2 separate regions of the Homo sapiens genome follow, and region 2 is linked to region 1. Evidence: fine-mapped expression QTL. A gene starts in region 1. The other region holds a variant in brackets. All regions are shown on one strand. Distances are from middle to middle.

Region 1 (5,508 bases):
TGGCTAATTGTTTGTATTTTTGGTGGAGACAGGGTCTCACTATGTTGCCCAGGTTGATCTTGAGTTCCAGAGCTCAAGCGATCCACCCGCCTGGGCCTCCCAAAGTGCTGGGATTACAGGCATGAGCCACCACACCTGGTATACACACCCATGTTTTATAGCAGCACTGTACACAGCAGCCAAGAGGTAGCAGCAATCCCAGTGTGCACAGAGAGATGAATGAATGCACAGTGTAGCCCATCCATACAATGGAATATGATTCAGCCTCAAAAAGGAAGGGAATTCTGATACCTGCTACCACATGAATGAATCTTGAAGGCATTATGCTGAGTGAAATAAACCTGACAACGCCCTCCTGGCAGATGCAGACACAAAAGGATAAACGCTGTGTGACTCTATTTATTTGCAGTACATAGAATAGTCAAGACCACAGAGACGAAAGGTAGAATGGCGGTTGCCAGGGCCCGGAGGAGAGGGAAAGAGGAGTTAGTGCATAGTGGGTAGAGTTTCCGTTTTGCCAGGTGACGATTTCTGCAGGTGGAGGGTGCTGTTGGTTGCACGACCCTGTGAATATACTTAATGCCACTGAACTGTGCACTTAAAAGATTATAAATTGCATTATGTATATTGTACCATAATAATTTTTAAACAGTCAGCTGTCATTGCTCTGGCAGACAGAAGGGAGGGAACATCCCATGTGTCGTAGCCTCTGAGGCCCTGGGTTGCGTGCGAGGAGCTGACCGTGGCTCCTGGCCAGGTGCTGGCACACTCGCCTTCTAGGCTAAATGGAGAGGTCATTGCCAGTCTGCTCCTGTCTGCTGCCCTCCCCACCAGGCAGAGCCCCCTGCTCACTGCCCCTGGCCTGTGCCCTGGGGAGCTGGGGAATGGGACAGCCGCTGGCCACTGGTCACAAACATCGCCACCCAGCATGTGATGCTGGCTTCCTGCTGGGGAGGAGCCGTAGGCTGGCCTTTGGCTCCTCTGGAAGTGCCTGGCCTCTTGGGAACTGCTTTCTGCATCTGCGAGAAGAGGGTAAGGACTGCTCCTGCCCTATGGGCCCCATTGGCTGTCATCCCTTGGGCCTCCATGCTGCCCCATTTTCAGAAGACTTTCCTTGTCTTGAGGACTTCACGTATGTTACCATTGACCCTCATGCCTGAGCTTAGAGAGGGGAAGTGACTGGTGCAGACACAAGTCCAAGGCAGCAGCCTCGTTTCCCAATCCCCAGCCGGTGCTCTGGGCGGGCCACTGCCGTCAGTGGGGGACAAGGGTGGCAGCCCCGCCTCAGCCCTGCAAAGCCCGTGGAGACCAGGGGCTGCCTTCGAGGGGACAGTGGGGCCTAAGGCCTGACAACGCCCTCCTGGCAGATGCAGACTTCCCGAGCAATTTCCCGATCTGCTTGGGAATGGGAGGGGGGGTGAGGGGGTGGGGTGGGGGAACAGAGTCTGGCAGGAGAGGCTTGTGGGGATTGCACAATGAGGCCACAGCAGCCAGCCGTGAAGGCAGCCACCGGCCAGGGCCCCTCAGCCCGTATCCTCATCGCCCCTGTGTGGATGAACTCCATCTGCGCGGTGCCGGTGGAAGGACCCTCCCAGCCCCGGGACACCGCGGCTCTGTGGACTCATCTGAAAAATGTCATCCCTGGAGTCCTAGGAGAGAAGGGGTGGGGTTGGCAGCCTTAACGCCCCATCCTGCATCCTGGCGGCCTCCCGCATCCGCTCCCCCACAGGTTCCCCAGAGACAGGATGATGGATGGCAATCCGAGTGCAAACCTGGCGCTTGGCCAGCACTCTGGAAGAGGAAGTTCTCAGTTCCCAGGGCACCTGAACCCACAGCCGCCCCCACTCCGCTGGCCCCCCTGGTCCTGGAAGACCTGTTACTAGGCTGCAGAAGGGGTGGCGGAGTGATCAGGGGGCGGGGAAAGAGGCCAAACAAAAGAGGGGAGGAGCAGAGGCCCCAGTGAGGCAGGAGGGAAGCCCCTGCCCAGCGGGAAATTCCTAAATGTCTGGGTCCTTTCCAGAGGGCAGGAATTCCTAGCCTAGAGTGTGAAATAAGGAAGGAAGTGAATCTCCAGTGGGTTCCCTTCACAGCCCCTTTCCATCCTCCCCACATGCCCCACCCCCACATCTCCCAAAACAAACCCTGAGAGACGGTGTGGATGGGGAGACAGGCCTGGAAACGGAGGCCTGCGCTGAATGGGCAAAGCCGGGTTGATGATCCAGACGAGGCCCTGGAGTCTGGGCCTTGGGCCCCTCCCCTTCTGCCTGCTCCGGCAGCCTGTGGGTCCAGCCCCAGCCCCAGAGGGGGAAAGGCTCCAGTGGGAGTCCCATAGGCCTGGCTAGGAACCCCACTCCGCTACTTAAAGTGGTGTGAGCCGGGTCAGCCACTTCACCTTTCCGCATTTACGCATTTCAAGCAAGGCTTGACGACCGGAGGGGCTCAAGGCCCTGTGCACAGCCGCGCGGCCAGCACTCTGGCCAGCCTTGTAGCCCCCTTCCCCTTAGGGGGCCTCCTTCAGGAAGCCCCCGTCCCCTGCCTCCTTGTGGCCACGGTGACACCGGAACACTTCAGAGGGGCGGCTGGGGAGTTGGGGTGGGACGGGCTCTCCCGCAGCTGGAGCCGGTGTGTGACGCGGGAACGCGGCCAAGCGCGCCCCATCCAGGCGGCCTATCAGGAGCCGTCGTCGGACAATGGCTCCGCGCCTGACAACCCCGTCGTCCCCGTGCCGTCCCCCGAACTCCACATACCATGCGACGCGCGGCCAGCCCCCCGCCCCTGCCCGGCTGCTGGGAGGAAGTGACAGCGCCCCGCATCCCCCGCTGGGCAGGCCGGGCGCGCCCAGCCCCTGGGACGCAGGGACACAGCCGGGCCGCGCTGGGCCTTGGCCTCCGCCCGCGGGTTTTCCGCGGTTGCGGCGGGGCGGGGAAGGAGGGGCGGGCGGGGCGGGGCTGACTCTGCGACTATTTCAGGCCTTGCGGAACCCGGGCCAGGACAGTGGCGGCCAGGCCGGGACACGGTAAGTGACCTCCGCTTCCACACGTCCATTCCCCGCCGCTCCGCGCGGCTTCTCGCCCGCCCCTACCCCGAGGCCAGGCCGGATTCCCCGAGGAAAGAGCCTGTCGCCGCGGCGGGGACAGGAGGGGGCTGGACGCTTCCAGGGAAACTGAGGCCCTGGCGCGCCCAGCGTCCGCGCGTCCGGGCGCAGAGGGGCCAAGGCTGGCTGAGGGCCCGGGCCTGCCAGAGGCAGGGAGGGCGGGGCTGGGGCAGGCGCAGGGGTCTCCCCTCCATTACAGCAGAAAGGCCCCAGGTCCGGCGTGACTCCCCGGCCGGGCGACACAGGCCGAGTCACTTCCTCGCCCGTGCCCGGGTGTCCTCATCGGGGGATGGGTGCGCCTTCCACATCCTGCCCAGGACTGAAGGAGCCGGGCCCAGCGAGCTCCCGGGAGGTGTGTGGACATCAGCCCTGACGGGGAAGGCGAGCCAGGTCAGTGGACCTGAGGAGAGGCCGGGCAGCAGGAGGCTGGGGGGCGCTGTTGAGCCACTGGCTGTGACCCCTCTACGAGCCTCCCAGCAGGCCCCTTCCTGCCTCAGTGGGCCCAACCAGCGGCAAGGCTCAAAGGAACGCCCCTCCTCCCCTTCTTCCTTTCTGGCTGCACCGGCTCGCTGCTGCCTGCAGGACAGACTCAGGACACAGGAGACTCACCCCCACTGAGGCCCAGCTAGGCGCCCAGCACTTGGCTGTGCGGTTTGGCCACATCCCCTCAGCAGCACTGTGGGGTGGGGGTCCTCATCCCCTTTTCAAAGACGGGGAAACGGCGGCTTGTGAAGGAAGGAGGTGTGCAGTCCACACACTAGTGAGAAGTGTGCTGAGCCCACACCGAAAGCGTTTCTCTTTCCATGGCACCAGCTGCCTCGGAGAGCGGAGACCTGGGGCGAGGCCCAGGGGGCTGCAGCAGGACCTTCAGGCGCTCTGGGTTTCGTGTCACAGAGGGGAGAAGGCGGTGATGCTGTGGGGGTCCTGCGGGAGCTGTGCCTGGAGGTGGGACAGAGCCTAGTACATGTGGGGTGGGACAGGGAAGGCTGAGGTGAGGCTGGCAGGGAGCATTGCTGGTAAGGGCCACCCTCCCCCACCCCAGGAGAATGGCAGAGGTGGGGCCTGGGCACCCAGGGTGGGGCTGAGTGGCCCTGCCAGACAGACCAGCTCCCGCGGGTGCTAGGCATGCACCTGAGAGGGGCTGGGAAGCGAAGTTGGGGCACCGGGTGGGGAGCAGAGGTGCCCCATGGCCTTGCCCCTGGGGCTCCCTGGAGCATGCCCCTCTTGGTCCTGGAGTGGAATGCTCAACCCAAATGGCACTAGGGAGGCCAGTGCCATCCAGGAGTGTGGGACTCTGCCCAGGGCACTGGGTGAGCATGGCAGGGGCTGGGGGTGGGAGGAGCCCAGGCTTCCTGTCCCTCAGGTGGCTCTGGCCAAGCCCCTCCAGGATGGGGACAGGGTAGTGGGGCTGGTGGAGGCAGCGGGGCCATGGGAAGAGTCGGATGGGCCCAGTCTGAGCCTCCATGGCTGCTGTGCTTGGGGCAAACACCTCCTACTCAGCCTCAGTTTCTCCTTCTGGATGGTGGATCATCCTGCCTGCCTTGCAGGGCTGTTTCAGGGGTCACTTGAAGTTACCATGATACATGAGACAAGGCTGCATGCATTTAGTCTTGGGGTGGGGCAGACAGGTGGCATCAAGGTTACAGGTCACCCCAGTTCTTGGGGAGGCCCAGCCCCTGCCTGCTTCCCCCTTTCAGATCAGCCATGCTCTTCTCCAGTGGACCTGGCCTTGCTCTGACAATGGTCAGGTGCTGGGCAGGGACTCTGGGGAAGCTCGGGTCTTGCCTCTCTGGATGTAGCTTGCAGGATAGCTGGGGATGTGGAGGCAGGGGAAAGCTGGGCTCTGGGACCGGGTGGCCTGAGTTCCAAGCCCAAGCTATTGACTATAGGGACAGTTTAAGCCGAAATAACACCCTTCCAGATGAGAGAAAGGAAGAGATGGGATGGGCACCCAGGAAGGCTGCAGAAACTGGAAGCCTTTGTGATGATGCTACGATCCCATTTGGGAGGGGGTGGGAGCCAGGAAGCCTGGGTTCTGGACCCGAGTTGCTGTGTGACTTCAGGCCGCCCTGTGACTTGCTGAGCCCCTTGCCCCAGTGATGTGTGAAAGGCTGTCTGAGGTCCCACCCACTGTGGCTTCTGTAGATCCTGGTCAGGCTCTGCCCCTTTCATGGCCCAGCTGGAGCAGCTGTGTTTCTGTGACCCCACCGCTGGATCAGAACTGGACAAGATGGCAGAGGGGCTGGGTCTGGGCAGGAGGAGGCTGGGTTCCAGTCTCAGGCCGGTTCTGGTGTTCTAGACCCCGGCATGTCCCAGACCTTTCTGGACCTCTGTTCCTGCTCTGTCCAAAGGGACAGAGCCCATGCCCCGCCTCTTCCCTAGGGTCCCGTGGGATCCAGGGAGGTGTCCATTGC
Region 2 (5,000 bases), 26 kb before region 1:
CACAGAAGACACCAAGATGGGCATGCAGGCACAGACACAGACTCAGAAGCACTGGCAGACCCTCTGGGGACACTCCAGGGCAGAGTCATGCACATACAGGGAGACACTCTCAGGCCAACACACAGATGTGCAAAACCGACGCCCAGAAAAGTGTGTATATGCCCGCGCGCTCAAGCTCAGGCATCAGATTCACTTTCCTGGTTTCCCCGGGAAAGTGCCGAGTACTAGCCATGGCTGGGGGCTGAGTCAGGCTCACTCCCTGCCTTGCGGGTCTCCTGGTCTCCAGGCTCTGTAACTGTCCCTCCGTCATGGCAGGTGTGCCCAGGGCTGGGATCAGGCCCACAGCAGGAGGTGCCGAACATGGTATGGGCTCAGCTGGTCCGGGAAGGCTTCTTGGGGGAGGAGCCATTTCTGCTGAGCCTTCAATGAGTTGACAACTGAAGAAGGAGGGGCTGAGGTCATTGTAGGCAGAGAGGATGGCCTGTGCAAAGGTGTGGAGGAGAGGTGGGTACTTCTGAGTGATCAGAGTGAGGGAATGAGTTGGGACTGAAGCCAGAGGGGTCATTAGGAGAGGCCTTGAATGCCAAGCTAAGGATGGAGCTGTGCTTCTTCCGAGGGCAGCAGCGGCTCAGGGGGCTTATGCTTTGTTGCTACTGTGAAGGGAAGTCTTTTAAGTGTCTCTTTCTAATAGGCTTTGCTAGGGTATAGGAAAGGTGTTGCTTGTATTTACATAATCAATGCACAAAATTTACTAAACCCTTTTATTAGCTCCAATAATTTTCAGCCTCAGATTTTCTAAGCCAACAATCATATCACCTATGAATAATGACAGTTTAATCTGCTCCTTCCCAGTGTTTACATCTCTTATTTATTTTTCTTTCCTTATTGCCTTAACTAGTTCTTCCAGCCAAATGTTGAGGAGTAAGAATGGTGAGAACAAACATCCTTGTCATTTTCCTTATTTGCAGGGGCTGGAAGGAAAAGGAAAGCTTGCAAGGAAAGCTTTCAAAGGAGGTTTATAGGGCCGGGCATGGTGGCTCACTCCTGTAATCCCAGCACTTTGGGAGGCTGAGGCAGGAGGATTATTTGAGGCCAGAAGTTTGAGACCAGCCTGGGCACACATAATGAGACCCCTGTCTCTACAAAAAATATAAAAATTAGCCAGGCATGGTGTTGCGCACCTGTAGTCCCAGCTACTTGGGACGCTTAGGTGGGAGGACTGCTTGAGTCCAGGAGTTTGAGGCTGTGGTGAGCTATGATCGCATCCCTGCACTCCAGCAGTGGGTGAAGTGACACAGCGAGACCTCGTCTCTAAAAACAATAAACAAAGGAGGTTGACGTTTTGGCAAGATTCTTTTTTTTTTTGCAATTGTAAGATTTAGTAGAGTGAAAACAGAGCTCCTATACAAAAGGAGGGGACCCAAAGAGGGTAGCTGTTGCCAGCTCAAATGCCTGGGTTTATATCCCGATCATTGTCCCTCCCACTGTGCTCTCAGGCGATAGATGATTGGCTATTTGTTTACCTCCTGTTTTTGCCTAATTAGCATTTCTGTGAGCTCTCTTTAATACCTGATTGGTCGGGTGTGAGCTAAGTTGCAAGCCCCATGTTTAAAGATGGATGCAGTCACCTTCCCAGCTAGGCTTAGGCATTCTTAGTCGGACTAGGAAATCCAGCTAGTTCTGTCTCAGTCCCCCCTCTCAACAGGAAAACCCAAGTGCTGTTGGGGAGGTTGGCCAACGACCGTCTAAGTGCTAGGCAAGATTCTTATGACTGATCCGAGGAGGCAGCATTGAGGGGGCCTGGGAAGGAGAGCAGCTCGGAGGCTGTGATCAGGTGAAGGTGGATGGCAGGTGGGGAAGTGAGAGGGGACAAGCCCCGCACAGGGCTTCGGCCCAGGGCACAGTACAGGCAGTCACCTGCAAGAGGCTCCTTTGGAGCGTTGAGGAGTGGAGCGATGGTCCAGTCCCAGCGTAGTTGGGGAGGCTGGGGAGTGGGTGAGCACTGCAGAGTGATTGGGAGGATGAGGAGCAGCTAC[G/A]GGAGGGAAGGTCTAGGGGAAAGCGGGGAGTAGAAGCTGAGGCTGGGGGTAGGGAGGGTGGGGAAGTTCGGACTTGACTTCTCGGACACAGCTAGGGTGGCCCAGGGTGGGAGCTCTCAGTGACTGTGTCTCTGGGTGGTTTCTTGCCCCTGCTGCTGGCCCCACAAAGGGTGTATTAGCCTGACCTGGGGAGAGTGGGACCCGGGGCTCAGGCCGGGCGTCAGTCTCTGGGGCCTTGCAATCAGGGAGCGGCAGCATAGGAGCCGGGGCCCCCTGGACTCTCCGGGCACTGGGGACAGAGAGACGCAGAGAGAAAAGAGAGCCAGAGAGAGTCCATGGGGGTGTGGGGAGGCAGGCACAGGGACAGGCCAGGCGAGAGCCTTGGGAGGTGGAGGGGGGAGTTGAGAGGGGCCTTCAGGTCTCAGCCCCGCAGGCGCCAGCATGGCAGCAGGCAGGCCAGCCGGGGGTGGCAGGGCGACCCTGATACCGATGTTCCGCCTGCTTCCAGGCTGTGCTCAGGGGTGACCGGGGTAGATGGACAGAGGCTGCCAGCCCAGTGCAGGAGGGCCACATCATCACAGGGACAGTGCCGAGTACCCACTGAGCAGATAGATGGTGACGGCCGGTGGTGCAAGGCATCTGAACCCCGAGGTCCTGAAACCCAAGTCAGGTTTGGAGAACAAACAGGGGCCAGGAAAGGGAATGGCCGGAGGGGAAGCTGGAGGCTGGGCGTGCAGCCGGGAGGACAGAGAAGAAGCTGGGTGGGGTGCAGGTTGTCCGTGAACCCCAGGGGAAGCTGGTGAGGTGTCATCAGCGGGAGGTGGGGGGTGGAGGAAGGAGGTTCCAGGATGGATGCCCGGCTGTGGGGCTCGGGCAGGAGGGAACCATGGAAGGGCTTAAAGCAGGGGAGTGACCTGGCTGGACTTTTGCTTTGGGAAGGTCGAGAATAGCTTGGGAAGCTGTTGGGAGCTGCAGGGTCGAAGGTGGCATGGCTGGAGGCTGAGGGGCCATCTGGGGACCTCACTGGCCCTTCAGCGAAGTTCTGGTTTGGGACAAAAGCAGGCTGAGTGACCCCCAAGCCTCTGCCTATGTAACCTCCTAAGAGATTCACCGCACAGCTGCCCCTCCTTACCCGGCGCTCGTCTGGGCTTCCTGGGAGAGAACCTCCACATCTGACCCCACTCTGGGACCTGCTGACACCTTGGGTCTCTCCGCCGGGAGGGGAGCTTCTGGGCGGCAGTTCTGAGTCCCTGGGGGTGGAGACGTGGCAGGTCCCGCCTCTGCTCCCAGCTCCAAGCAGGCTCCCCAGCCTGAGTGCGCGGCCAGGGGCAGACTCTGTCCCTCTGTGAGCCTCAGGTTCCTCATCTGTGAAATGGGCAAATGACAACCCCTAACTTTGATGTCACAGTAGCTGATCTGTGTCAGGCATCGAGCTGGGCACACAGTAGGTGCTTACTAAGTGTGAGTTCTCCCAAACAAGAAGGCGGGGCCTGGCTTGTCCTTCCCCACATCCCCGCCTCCGTCCTCTTGACAGCGGTGGATGCAGCATGTGCTGAACCGTTCTCTTCACAACACCCCTGCCCTGCTGGGCGCCGGCCCCCATGCCAAGCATGAAGGGGCACCGGGGAGAGAGAAGCGAGTGGAGGCTGGGACAGATGGTGCCCTGAAGTGTGGGTCAAGTCCGAATCAGGCAGGGTCCCTGAACCCTGGCGCTGGGGGAAGTCGCCGACCTGTGGCCAGGGCGGGGCTGATAAAGCTCCATCAATCACTTGACTGTCTCTCCTTCCTCGGGCCTCCATCCAGCTGCTTAGCCGCCTCTGGGAACCTCAAGGAAGGTAGGTAGGCTGCAGCTGGGCCCAGCAGGCACCTTGCTGGAGGGCGAGGGTGGGTGGGGGTCTGGGCCCTGCCCACTTTGGTGTCATTCCACCGCAGCAAACTGGGGCCTGGGGAGGCACACTTCCTGCCCGATGTCACCCAAGGGTTGGGTGGTGGGTCAGGCGGGTGCTTTGGTCCTGGCACCTGGGTGGGGGGCCCTGGGGCTGGGCTAGGGGCAGGTCCAGCCCTTCTTTGGCCCCAGTTTCTCCCAGAGGAAAGTGAGGTTTTGCTGGCCTAATGCCCTCCCCCACCCATGGCCCAGCTTGTGCAATGGGGTGGGTGGGAGGCCCCTCCCCTCTCCCAACCTAAAGCCAGGAAAGCAAACACAGCTCCTAACGCTGGAAGGGGGTGTGGGTGGAGCCTGGCAGGCCACGGTGCCGAGGGCCCTGGGGGAGCAGGAGCAGCCGCAGCTCAGCCACCCCCATGTCCCTGGGACACCCCCTCCATTCCCTGTGTTGGGGAGGGGCCAGAGCATGCTATGGTGGAGAGGGAGAGGAGTGGGGGGAGGAGGAGAGGCAATGGGTGGGAAACAGCATTGAGAACCCCCCCAGTCCCTGGTTAAATATAGACCCGAGGCTCCTCCTTCTGCCGCCCCTGTGGCTGCATGGCCATGATAAGCCGCAGGGTGGCCTTGGCCACTGCCCTCAGGCCCCACACCTCCTCGGCGGGCTCTGTGACACCCAGGGAAGGGGGTGGGCTCCCATGGGGGTCCCTGCCCTCCCCGTTGAGCCAAAGTAGTCAGGCCTTTTGGGCTGAAGGCGGGTGAGCTGAGGGACCTGGAGGGCAGTGAAGGAGCTGGTGGGGGCTGGGGGGAGGGTTTTAGGCCTCAGGACCTAACATCTGGGAAGGCCTAGATGTGGCTGCTGGTCCTGCCCTCGGGTGTTGTGAGCTGTGGTCTGGACTGGGCCCCAGAACTGCATGTCAGTGCCCTCCTCCAATTCTAATGGGAGGGTCTGGCCTGGCAGAGGCCGAGTGACGGTGGGCACCTGCGGAGACCCTTTTTGGGGGATGGTCTCAGGAAAGGCTCCTGATGGAAGCAGCTGTCTATATCTCCGTGCCCAGCTGCGGCCTGGCACACTGAGGGCTCTC

Evidence for each region. PIP is the estimated chance that this variant, and not a neighbour inherited with it, causes the effect.
Region 2: its variant is the best candidate, but not a certain one, in a credible set for the expression of TNFAIP2 in whole blood (TOPMed, PIP 0.56).

The regions. Positions count from the first base shown.
Region 1 is chr14:103,120,468-103,125,975 of GRCh38, forward strand. It overlaps TNFAIP2 (TNF alpha induced protein 2), which reads left to right and starts at 2,994. Exons shown (of 12, transcript NM_006291.4): 1 at 2,994-3,484. LINC00677 (long intergenic non-protein coding RNA 677) reads right to left here and starts at 2,442. Exons shown (of 2, transcript NR_138038.1): 1 at 2,142-2,442; 2 at 382-564. RefSeq lists enhancers at 1,925-2,457, 2,458-2,991 and silencers at 2,656-2,935, 3,236-3,285.
Region 2 is chr14:103,095,048-103,100,047 of GRCh38, forward strand. The region is part of intron 1 of EXOC3L4 (exocyst complex component 3 like 4); the gene reads left to right. Among named protein-coding and RNA genes, the nearest start is that of EXOC3L4, 2.8 kb to the left of the region's middle. RefSeq lists an enhancer at 1-256 and a silencer at 3,300-3,469. The variant G/A (reference allele first, on the strand shown) is at 2,037.